Regions from separate parts of the Homo sapiens genome. Here all the other regions are reported to be linked to region 3. Evidence: microRNA targets listed by miRTarBase, many of them from high-throughput screens and not tested one by one. Region 3 holds a microRNA gene; each other region holds the end of a gene's coding sequence.

Region 1 (4,139 bases), not on the chromosome of region 3:
TCCCAAGACATGTCAATTCTATCTCCTGAGCAACCCATAAAACGATTTCTCTTCTTTCCATCTTCCATTACCCTAATTCTGGTGTTCATTCTCTCTCCCTGGGATGGCTGTAAAAGCCTCTGATTTCTCCCCTTTCCAAACCAGTCTCCACACTGCAACCATAGTGATCTAAGGCACAATTCTCACCTTTTCAGTCTTAGGCTTAAAGTTCAACATCCCTCTGGATACAGTCTAAATCTTTAACACGGCTGAAAAGGCCCAGCAAGAGCTGGACCAAGCCCACCTCTCCAGCTTCACCTTTCCTCATTTCTCCTTTGCACCCTCTGCCTCTGAACAAGTTACAGTCTTCCAAAGTTGTCATGTTTCTTGACCTTTGCTGTCTCCTCTGCCCAGAATGCAATTTCCCTGTCTGGCTAACTCCTGTCCAGCATTTGGCCTCAGCATGGACATCTGTTCCTCTAGGACGCTTCCCCTGATTCACCAAGACCAGCTTAACTGCCCCTACTGGCTGTTCCTATAGCAATTCTTTACCACAGACTACTGATTTTTTGTGTTTGTTTTGTTTTGGCAGTCTGACATAACTTTATACTAATGCAGCTTCTAGCCCTGTCCCCCACTCCTTCCTGATCAGTATCCCAATGTCCCTCCTATATGGAGCCACCACTACCCCACAGGATCCTGTACCACCCTTCTCCCAGAACTTATCACACTTTTTTTTTGTAATTGTGTTTCCATTCTCCAATAAATTGTGAGCGCCACAAAGAACCATTTCTATCTCACTTACCACTTGGAAGTGACTGGCAGGTAGTAATTGCTCAACAAATGTTCTATGAGTGAATGAATCCTTGGGATAATTATAGTACTAACCATCTTATTTAGTTATGACAGTTCAATAGAAACACGTAAAATAATGCTTTTATAGTTTACATACTGCTATAGAGCTATTGTATTATATTATTATTATTCTATTCCTACCCTCTATTGCTTGAGAGTAGGATATTGCCTTATTCAATTTTGGTTATTGTCCCAGAACTCAGGGATATATGTCTGGCATATATTGTTTTTAACCAATTTTTGTTGACTGTATCAATGATTGTAAGAAGTGAACAAAGGGCCAGATAATTGAACTATCCTGGACCACACACAGCTACCCTGTTCCAGAAGCAGGACTATAATCCCATCTGGAAAAAGGGAAACTTGGAAGTTGACATCTAAATGAAATTCCAGCATGGATGAGAGAAGCCCTGATTTCTCTCCATCAAGAGACTAGCCAGCTATGGAAGCCACCAGAGCCCCAGACCTCCATGGTCAAGTATTCACATAGTAGACATGACCCAGACAAGAGGGTGCGTATTTCAGCGTGGAGGGGAGACTGGGCCCTTGGTTTCCTGTGTCTTTGTAGTCAGTTCTAACCTCAGCCTCAGGCACTGGTGTTGGGGCCCTATTCATCCTCATCTGCACGTCCCTCAGTTCTTTTCCTGTTGCTATTATCCTATAGAGTCAGCAAGTCATGGAAGAGGTTTTACAGTCTAACCCTGTGGGGGTGTCAGGAGTTGCCTCCTGCCAGGTCTTCAGCATAAAAATCCCCCCTCCTCAGCTCCCAGTCAATTCTTCATCCCCACCCCTAGACTCTCCCAAATACCCCTGATGAAACCCCTGAGGTGGAAAAAGATAAAGACAAGCAAAGATAAACAGCACAGGAAGCAGAGGTACAAATAGAATTCTGATTTTTCTCCTTTCTCTCCATATTTTGAGGAAATGAATCCAATGTCCTCACCCCACCTCCTGCAGCGGAGAAGTCCCCTGAGCATCTCTGAACATCATGAACCCTCAAAGTAAGCTTAGCTTGGGCCCCTTTTCCTTTTCTATCAGTGAGGCCAAAGAGCCCCAGATGGGAGACAGGTGGATTTTTCTCTCAGCTGGGACCTTTTCTCTTTCTTGTCTAGCACATTTTGGGAAACCTTCAAGTACATTCTCATGCTGGTATTATTTAAACTTTGCACTGGAGTGAATTCCAGGAGTTATGTCCACACTGAGACCAATGGAGATGAACCTAAAGCAATATGTGGCCAAACACCTTAGCCTCTTTAAATATACTTTCCTTTGCTCCTTGGTTAACAGGGTCTGTCTGCTCGCATTAGAGAAACTGCCCAGTGACTCAGATCCTGAAAGGATCTGCTTTAGAGAAAAAAGGAGTCTGGTACTTCTCACTCCATCTAGTGGGCAACCTGTCCAACTACACTTTTTGCTATCATCCAATACAGACAACACTGGCAGTCAATAAAAAAGCTCATTCTCCCATTTCTAAAAGAATTCAATCTAGGAGTCTAGCTGCTGGCTTAACAAAGGGATATACAGCAAAGCCTAAGGTGCCCTGACTCACGAGAGAGCTGATTTCTGCCGAAATGCTGAGGTGAAACCCTAAAATGGTTCTGGCCACCTGCTAGGTTCTAGCTCAGACCCTGCACTGGATCATCTTTGTTCCACCCCCAAACCAGAGTAAATGGAATTCAGGAGGCTGGTTCTGTGCCCGCCCCTATGTACCTCAAATACTCGTAGCTGCCAAGCTTTTAAACAATGAAACTTAACACTGTACTTAAAGGGCTGTTCTGCTCAAATCATAAATGTGCACGCTAGTTGTTCACCAGTAATTAAAACTACTCGTACACATTTAATCAACATTTTCACAAGCGTTTTGCCTTAACTAAAAATTTGTATCAACATGAAGTCCTAGAATTATACTGCATGAGCCCCCAGGATTTGGAGAACATCATTCACCCTTCTTAATCCAAAAACTTGGGTGCCTGAAGGTGGGGTTTTGATCATGGCCAGGCTTCAAATTTAGGTCAGGCTCTGGTGGTACATCCTTATATGCTTGGTGCTCAGCACAGGTCAAGACACACAATAGACCCTCAATAAATATTTGCTGAATTTGAACAATTCCTGTAAAAATCTCATTAAGAGACATCAGCTTGGGACACAGTTCCTCTCTTACTGTTCCTTCTCCCAGAAGCTCCTGGAATGAGCAGGTCTGGCGGCAGGGGGCACACAGGGCTGCTGCTCAAATCGGAGAATGGCACAAACTCCAAAAGGGAGCTGGATTTAGACCTCCCCTCCCCATGTAGATAACGGGATTCCTAAGGTGCAGAGTGGGAGAATGGGTAGAGGAAGCAGGTTTCAGAGACTGAGAACCTACTAAACTCCTAAGAGAACTTTCCCTTGCAAAGAGAATGCATGAAAAAAGAAGGGAGAAGAGGAGAGAAGCCTCCCACAGCTGTTAGCCTGGAACAGCCGCTCTCACCTCAGTTCATCTGGGGAAGGGGCTACAAAGCAAACAATCTTTATTCACAATTGGGGTGGCAGAGGGGAGATACCCCCAGGTCAGTCCAAAAGCAAAGATACTGGGAGGGAAGATGGCGCTGGGCGAGGAACTCAGCACTCATCCTCACCCAGCAGGGCATAAGGGTTTCGGCCAGCCAGGCTGGACCCTGGAGCCGAGGTTGGGGTCTCCTCATCCCCTTCTCCCTCCTCATCCGCATCCCGGTCCTCCTCTCCCTCCTCCTCACAGGAGCTGCTCAGCTCTTCCTCTTCCTCCTCCTCCTCGTCACCTGCTGGCCCCACCCTGCCCTGCAAAACCACCAGCTCCGTGGTCTCTGGATGGGACTCCCAGGTGCCTGGGGAACCAAAACAAGAAAAAAATGGAGGAGAGTTTTGAGCAAGAACTAAAGCCAAGGAAAGATGGGGAAGAGGCAAAGACTAGGAATAACAATAATCTTTAGAGCTGCTGGCATTCATTCATTCATCCATTCATTCAACTTCCTATGTGCAGATTGCTGAACAGAACCTTTGTGCACATCAACTTCAATCTTTACAATCACTATGCTAAGGGTCAATTATTACCCTCAGTTTGCAGATCAGGAAAATATCACAGATGTTAAGTAACAGAGCTAGCCAACAGGTACAGAATCCAGGTTTGACCCTCTCTCTGGCCACAAAGCCCACACCCTTTTACCTACGCTATAGCAGGGGGCTGGGGAAGAATATCTGGGCTCTGACCTTTCTGTTCACTGTAGCCTGGGGGATGAAAACACAGGCTGAGGCGGCCGTCCACTGCCAGCCGCAAGAGACTGTTGGCTGCT
Region 2 (4,125 bases), not on the chromosome of region 3:
AAGACAGACATAGAGCAATGAGAGGATAGAACACCAAGAAACAAACTCTTGTGTATATGGTCAAATGATTTTCAACAAAGATGCCAAGATCTCTTGATGTTAGAAAAGGACAATTTCTTCAGAAAACAGTGCTGGGAAAACTGGATATTCACAGGCAAGAGAATGAAGTTGGACCCTTATCTTATACCATACACAAAAATTAATTCAATATGGGTTAAAGACCTAAACGTAAGACCCAAAACTATAACACTCCTAGAAGAAAACATGGGGAAAAAAGCTACGTGATATTGAACTTGGCAATGATTTCTTGGATATGATGCCAAAATAAAAGCAAAAATAGAGAAATGGGCCTGCATTAAACTTTAAAACTCTGTGCATCAAAGGTCACAATCAGTGAAAAGGCAATGTACAGAACTGAAGAAAATATCTGCAAATTACGTATCTGATAAGGGGTTAATGTCCAGAATATATAAAGAACTCCTACATCTCCACAACAATAAATTAAATAACCTGATTTAAAGATAGGCAAAGGACTTGAATAGACATTTCTCCAAAGAAGGTATACAGGTGGCCAACAAGCCCATGAAAACATGCTCAACATGGATAAACAAAATGTGGCATGAAAATACAAGAGTATTACTGTAGTCCAGCCTTAAAAAGGACAGAAATCCAGTCACGTGCCACAACCTTAAGGTCATTATACTAACTGAAATAAGCCCGCCACAAAAAGACAAAAACTGCATGATTTCACTTATACGAGGTATCTAAAGCAGTCAAATTCATAGAAACAGAAAGTAGAATTGTGGTCACCAGGGGCTGGAGGAAGGGGGAAATGGAGCCTTGTTGCTCAATGGGTATATAGATTTGCAAGATGAAAAAGTTCTACAGATCAATTAGATCAATTTCACAACAATGTGAATATACCTAACACTGTTGAACTATTCACTTAAAAATGGTTAAGATCAACAACAACAAAAAGAACAAAAAAAATGGTTAAGATAGTAATTTTTTTGCCACAATAAAAAATATAGTTGAGATAATCAGGAAAAACTAAACACTAACTCTTCACACAGTTAACTGCATTTGAATTCTGTACTCATTTGTGACAGATACAGCTACTTAATACTCAGAGAGTGGAAAGAACACTTCTTTAAAGAGGTCAAAAATCTGGCTACTAGCCCCAAATCTCCTAACTAGCTATTAGATGATATTCAAGAATCACTGTTAATTTCATTGGATATGATAATGACACTATAGCTATGCTTTTTGAAAAAGGATTCATACTGAAGTAATTTTGGGGTAACATTATGTTTTCTATGATTTACCTTAATATACTCCAGCCAAAAAATAAAGAGTACAGGTGGGGCAGGGGTAGCTGAGAAAGGATGGCAGAGTGGTCTCGTCATGCTTGTTAAAGCTGGGAGAGAGGTACATGTACGAAAAGTTTAAAACAAACCAAACAAAACACGAGGGGAAGAAAAGCATGGATGGGTATTTGGAAGGAATGGCAGCAGGATCAATTTATTGAGATTTTGTGACAGCATCATATACTACAGACACTATTGCTGATTTTCAAAAAGCATTGCATTTCAATTTGCATCTAACAGATTAAAAATAAAGAAACAAATGAAATTGAAAGAATGATCAAGCTTCAAGTAACGTTTCTCACCACCTCCCCCGGCCACAAACAAACAAAAAGGTCCATGGTTTAAGAATGTTGAACAAAGGGACTAAAGGTGTCATGGAGACCTGCCCACCAGGGCCAGAATCTGGACAGTGATGGAGAAATTTCTGCTGCAAAAATGTCCGCCGCGTCAGGGAATACAAACCACATACGAGAGGGTGTTGATGTTGTTTCTCAGATACATAGGATGGACCTGTTTTCTTTCTGCTAATAGAAAGCAATCAGTCAAGCAAGGACTTCAGAGTGGATGAAGGGTACATAAGACCACACAATGATGGCATTCAAGAGAAAGAAAAGAGGTAAGGATGCAAAATTAAAAAAAAAATAGGACTTAATGAAAGCTAATTTCATCAAGCCCAGGTCACTGATGAGAAAGATGTAAAATCAAGAAACCAGTGAAATAACACGTAACAGGTGAGTCAAACATTACCAGCCGCATCAAACAGTGGAAGTGAAATGGCACCATCTAGCCCACCTGGTGAAATCCAAAGCGAGAACTTAAAGGGAGTAAGGATGATTCACAAAATGCGGTCGGGACACAAGAAAAGTGAGTTTGGAAGGACAGTGAAGAGAGAAAAAAGAATAAGGAAACCACCAAAATTTCAACTCAAAGATACATTTTAAACTGCATGGTATGGCCCACTGTCAATACCGTGGCTGCCTGGGAACAAAAAGGGTGGTCTCCAGATCCCCCAGAACCCCACTATACACCAGGAGGACAAGGAGGAAAGGAAGAAACCCCCTTTGCCTGCCAGAATGCACATGAGGGAAGGAAGGCAAACCCCTAGCAGTTGCTGCTTTGACACATCACCTGCCCCAGCAGCAGGCAGCTCGCTACCCACTCACATTCCCCAGGACTGGCTGCTCCATGAATCCTCTGGGCACCTGTGCCCAACAGAGTTCCTTAGCAAGCTCCACTGGAACGTTGAAAAATTAACATTGAGTGTTTACTGTGCACGCTGTGCCATGTGGAACTCATGCACAAGGCTTGATGGATCCCTCCTGACAAAACAATCTTGAGGTAGATACGATAATTATCCCCATTTTAGGGTTGATGGAAACCAAGGCTGAGTGAGGGAAAGTCACCCACCCAACGCTGCCCTATGAGTGAGCAGCAGGGTTAGCCTCTCCAGTCAGAGCGAGTGTCTTCACTCCCCATTGGAGGAAGACTTTCCATCACAAGCCTAAATCACCCAGCAGGAAACCAGCCCAGCCCTGTCTTCTCAGTGAGGCCTTTTCTAACACGGGTGCTTATCTCCATCTCAGGATCAAAGGATCTATTGCTTCTGGCAAAAGGGCAAAAGCACCGCTTTTACTGGGAGGTACAAGACCTGGTTTCTAGCCCCAAATCTCCTACATATCTTGTCATACTGCCTGTGCCCTATCTCTCTTTGCCTTGGTTTCCTTATCTCCAAATAGGGAAAAGCAGCCTGTCCCCAGTGAGCTCCCCGAAGGGTTGTATAAAATGAGACAAGGGAGGCAAAGCCCTCTGAATTCCTAAGCAGCCATGTTCTCACCATCACCGACCATGGCGCCCACCGTTCTTCTCCCCTGACCTTGCCCCCAAAGGCCCAGGAGCACAGACAGTTAAATAGCATCCCTCAAGGCCTGGAACAGGAGGAGCTTTGCATTCCAGTAGATTTTGCTGATGCCCTCAATAGAGGTGATCCTGATAGAATCAGAGGAAAAGAAAATATTCTTCTCTAGCAGCCAGAGGGCCCTTCCATCTTGCCTGTTCTCCCAAATTACCTGGCAACACTACCCCTTCCCCAGAAAGGCTCTGGATCAATGATTCTGGAAACCACTTAAGTCCTAAAGACAATTTTAAAACACCAGGAGAAAAATGCTCCTGCTCCTCCCCGCCCCACCTTCTAGAGGTATGCCTTTCTAGCAACCCCGAGGGGAGGTTCATCCCTGGGAGCTCTGCAGGAGAAGGTCCCCATTCCACATCATCTGGAAAATAGAGGGGAGTGCTAATATATGTGACCTTAGTGATCTCACAAGTGCATCAAAAAAAGCAACTGGCCAAGGAAATAGTTAAACCAGCCTGAACATGCCAGGCAGGCCCACCATAAGTCACTGTTTGAGTCAGGCTTGTGACCAAGGGTGTGTAGGCAAGGATGAGTGGGCAAGGCTGGAGGGGAAAAGCAGGCAAACCACTCTGAAGCAGGATGGAGGGTCGAGGACAAGGGCAGGGCAGAGGTGCACAGGGCAGGGCCAGTTCAGGGAGACCGCTGCAGGATGAGCTCTGTGATCTCGGCCCTGCTACCCAGCCTCATGGGTATCCCGTAGTAGGCTGTGCCTGGGCTGACATACACGAATGTAGCCTGGGCCACCTGGTAGAGACCAGCAAAGAAGGGATTCAGGAGATAGGCTGCTACGTTCAAGGGGAAGATCTGCCCAGCATGTGTGTGCCCAGAAAGGATCAGGTTAATATCTGG
Region 3 (4,139 bases):
CCAACTGACCTTACAGAGCTACCCAAGAATGTTCTATAACGACCGTCTGAGAGTTGGCTATGTCATCAATCACCTGTCCGGCTTGGCATTAGAATGGGCCAAAGCTCTACTGCAGGAAAACAGCCCCCTGATCGGAGACTTCCCAGCCTTCCTGGAGGCCATGTCCGAAGTGTTTGAGTACCGCCAGGCACTGCGTGTGGCAGAAGAGGCCATGTTCACCATCAGGCAGGGCGGCCGCTCTGCCACTGAGTACATCGATGAGTTCCAGAGCCTGGTACCCATCTTGGGCTGGCCAGATGAAGTCCTGCAGGCCCACTTGTGCCAGGGGCTCAACGAGGAGATCAGGCACTATCTATTCCGGGTCCCTCAGCCGGATTCCCTAGACAGTCTGATTGTGCTCATCCTGCAAATAGAAGAGAAGCTGGCAGAGAGAAGAGCTATGCTCAGGCTGCCCCCCGAGGCCCGCCCCCGGAACCTGACCTGGATCGACTCACCTGCTCCAGAGAGGTGGATGGTCAGCAGCTGGTTGCCCAGCGAAGTCCATCCGGACATCAATCGCGCCCACCTCTTCCTGCTGCTCATGGTGAGAGTGAACCCCTACCACAGCGTCGCGGTCCAGGCCCTGGTGGATTCGGGAGCTGACGGCAACTTCATGGATGAGAAGTTCGCCCAAGAGCACTACGTCGAGCTCTACGAGAAGCCGTACCCACAGCCGGTCCAATCCGTGGACGGCTCGCTGATTGGCAACGAGCCTGTCTGGCTCTACACGGAGCCCCTGGTGTGTATCCACCAGAACCACCAGGAGTCCATCGAATTTGACATCGTACCTTCACCGAACTTCTCTGTGGTCCTAGGCATCCGCTGGCTCCGAGTCCACGCCCCCGAAGTCGACTGGATCAAAGGCCGCTGCACCTTCCACTCTCCCTACTGCCTGAAGAACTGCTTCCGCCCGCCCCCGCCATGCATTGCCCTAGAGAGGCACGGCATGAGCCTGCTACCCGGACTGCCACACCCATACTCAGACCTGGCCGACGTGTTTAACCCGAAGGAAGCAGATGATGAGACTTCCGACCAGCCAAGCTCAGACGGATCCGATGATCTTTCTGAATCAGAGCCCTCTGAGCTTCAGCAGGCTGGAGACAGTGATCACAGCGAGACCTTTTACGAGTGTCCCTCCACCGCGCCTTGGGAACCTGTGGGTGCCAGGATGCAAGAAAGAGCCAGGCTACAGGAGGAATACTGGGACCTGCAGGACATGCTGACCAACAGACAGGACTACATACAGATGATTCCGGAACTGTTTGACCAGTTACACGGAGCCGAGTGGTTCACAAAACTGGAGCTGCGTGGGACCATTGTGGAGGAAAGCGTGAACGGGCACCGCACCGAAGATGTGTGGAAAGCAGCGTTTGGTTTGGAGCTTGAAGAGATGAAGAGCTACCAGCCGTTTGCGCTCTCCCCAGACCCTATCATACCTCAGAACGTGATTCACTTCATCCTAAAGGACATGCTAGGGTTCTTTGTGCTTTCTTATGGCCAGGAAGTCCTGATCTACTCAATGAGTCAGGAGGAGCACCTCCACCACGTCCGCCAAGTCCTGGTCCGCTTCCGCCATCACAACGTCTACTGCTCCCTGGACAAGAGCCAGTTCCACCGCCAAACCGTGGAATTCCTGGGCTTCGTCGTCACCCCCAAAGGGGTGAAACTGAACAAGAACGTCATGACCATCATAACAGGGTACCCTACCCCTGGCTCCAAGCTATCTCTGCGAAACTTCATCGAATTCGTCTTCCCCTACCGCCACTTCGTGGAGCGCTTCAGCATCATCGCAGAGCCCCTGGTGCGGCAGCTGCTGAGCTCCTACCAGTTCTACTGGGGAGTCGAGGAGCAAGAGGCCTTCGAGTGCCTGAAGAGGGCTTTCCGCAAGGCGCCTCTCCTCCACCACCCCAAGCCCCAGAACCCATTCTACTTGGAAACCGGCGTCACCGGCACGGCCCTGCACGCCTCCCTGATCCAAATCGACGACCAAACCGGCAAGAGAGCCTGCTGCGCTTTCTACTCCCGCAACATCTCCCCTATCGAGGTTGAGTACTCTCAAGCGGAGATGAAGATTCTTCCAATACGGGCTGCCTTCATGGTGTGGTGCCGCTACCTGGAGAACACCGAGGAGCCCATCATGATCCTTCTCAACACAGAGGATCTAGCCTCTCTGAATAATGACAGGCTCACCGTACTTCTCCCCGGGCATTGGGTCTTCTTCTTCTCCCACTTCAACTTTGACGTCATGGAGCTGCCAGAACAAGACGGCGGCCGAGCTCTGCCACCTGTGAGAAACCTCCGGTGGAGGAGAGCCTTCCAGAGGAACACTGCCGCCAGGCAAACCCTGCTGCTGGCCTCAAGGGGATTCCCCAGGGATCCATCGACGGAATCCGGGGAAGAAGAGAATGAAGAACAGGATGAGCTCAATGAACAGATCCTACGGCAAGAGCTGCTGGCCATGATACCCATCGACCAGATCCTCAACAGCTTCCTCGCCCACTTCAGCATGGCCCAGATCAGGGCCGTCATTCTGCACTTCTTCCGAGGCCTCCTGTACTGGAAGAACACCCTAGCCCTGGCAGCCATCCTCGTGCTACTGCGCGTGAGGCAATGCCTCTCGCTGCGGCCGGCACCCGCCATGCGGGTGGCTCGGCCCCAGCCCCAGCGCTCCCTACGACTCATCCTGGATTCGTCCCTCATCGCAGGCAGCAGCATCACGACAGCCATCACCCAGCTGCTCACCCAGATGCCCGCTCTCGTAGGTGCAAACACCATCCCAGCCCAGGAGCTGGCTGAGCTGTTCCTGGGCCCTGGCCGCTGGCAGCGAAATGCTCTGCACTCCCAGGCCCACCGAGGCCTGCAGTTCACCCCTGGCTTCTGGCTGACGCTGTGTGAGTTCTTCGGTGTCAGAGTCACCCCCCAGGAGGGCCACCTCCCTGCCCTGCGTCAGAACCGCTACCTGGAGCTGCACGTCGTTGGTGATGAGGATGTCGTCTTGCGAGAAGCCCTGCAAGACGACCTGCAACGTTACCGTCAGTGTGGCCTGCATGACGGCCTGCAAGACACCTCGCAGGACAAGCAGGACAACGACGTGCAGGAGGCCCCACCCAGCCACACAGCAGCCACCCACCCACCCCGCCCACGCCACCTGATGGATCCCCAGGTCCTGGAATTCCTTGGTAGCCGCCTGCTCCACATCCACAGTGCAGATGGCCAGCTGCACCTGCTCAGCCGGGAGCAGGCAGCCAGGGCCCTGAGCCAGTTCCTGACCCTGATCTACAGGCGGGCCCTGCCCATCCCCGCCTGGGAGAGCCAGCCCAGGGAGCAGGCAAGGCTAGAAGAGCTGCCTGATGAGGACGAAGATGCTAACCTCGACTGAAGACGCCTCCCTGTCTCCAGCAAAGAGTCCCCTCTATTTCTCACCCCAACACCTCCCGACGTCCCCTGGCCTCCCCGCGCCTCAGCCTGCTTCGCTTCCCTTCCTGCCACTCCTGACCCAAGAGGAACCCACTTGTGAAGGGCAACAACTTCTTCAACTCATCAACCAGCAATGCCACCTGTGCTAACGGACTACCCAGTCCTCAGAGACCCAGCGCCAGCCCTGGGCTACGAGTTCTCCGTTCTCCAGGTCCCAAGCCCATGCCCGGGAGTGACATCCATGAGGGAGAAAGCAGTGGTGAGCAGGAAGTGACCCCATGACGCGTGGCCAGATGAAGAAGCAGGCACAGCAGGCGCAGCCAAGCAAGCAGGTGACGGGGCCCCCCACCCGGCCTGGTGATGGCCACCCTGGGACACTGACCTCGGGTGCTCCACTGACTTCTTCTACCTCCACTGCCGGTGCTCCTGCTCCCCTGAGCTCCCGCCCCCGCCCCCCAACCCCCATCCCCCAACCTCCCGACATCTGATGATGTGGTGCCTCCCTCACCCCCATCACACCCTGCAAGCAAACCCACCCCCACCCCCACCACATCTGCTTCAGCTTTTTTGACCCCGCCTTCCTCTTGCCCTGAGCTCTGGACTTACCTGGACAAAGCCGCTCTTTGGGGCATCCGGACGTACCAGTGCCACTTACCAGACTTGCACAGCAAAGAGGGCCCCTG

Evidence for each region. The annotated mature microRNA hsa-miR-433-5p reads UACGGUGAGCCUGUCAUUAUUC and lies in region 3 at 2,212-2,233, opposite strand. An mRNA with a match to its seed (bases 2 to 7 or 8) in the 3' UTR can be bound and repressed. Matches are read on the target gene's strand: a 7mer-m8 pairs with bases 2 to 8, a 7mer-A1 pairs with bases 2 to 7 and ends in A, and an 8mer does both.
Region 1: miRTarBase lists GNL1 as a target of hsa-miR-433-5p. The part of its 3' UTR that is shown has no 7-base or 8-base seed match.
Region 2: miRTarBase lists TMPPE as a target of hsa-miR-433-5p. The part of its 3' UTR that is shown has no 7-base or 8-base seed match.

What each region holds. Positions count from the first base shown.
Region 1 is chr6:30,542,640-30,546,778 of GRCh38, forward strand. It overlaps GNL1 (G protein nucleolar 1 (putative)), which reads right to left. Exons shown (of 12, transcript NM_005275.5): 11 at 4,057-4,139; 12 at 1-3,674. The coding sequence ends at 3,433. Among named protein-coding and RNA genes, the nearest start is that of GNL1, 12 kb to the right of the region's middle.
Region 2 is chr3:33,088,928-33,093,052 of GRCh38, forward strand. It overlaps TMPPE (transmembrane protein with metallophosphoesterase domain), which reads right to left. Exons shown (of 2, transcript NM_001039770.3): 2 at 1,495-4,125. The coding sequence ends at 3,907. All of the region lies in intron 1 of GLB1 (galactosidase beta 1), which reads right to left. Among named protein-coding and RNA genes, the nearest start is that of GLB1, 6.2 kb to the right of the region's middle.
Region 3 is chr14:100,879,991-100,884,129 of GRCh38, reverse strand. It overlaps MIR433 (microRNA 433), which reads right to left and starts at 2,244; the gene lies at 2,152-2,244. RTL1 (retrotransposon Gag like 1) reads left to right here. Exons shown (of 4, transcript NM_001134888.3): 4 at 1-4,139. The coding sequence ends at 3,418. MIR431 (microRNA 431) reads right to left here and starts at 3,123; the gene lies at 3,010-3,123. MIR127 (microRNA 127) reads right to left here and starts at 1,151; the gene lies at 1,055-1,151.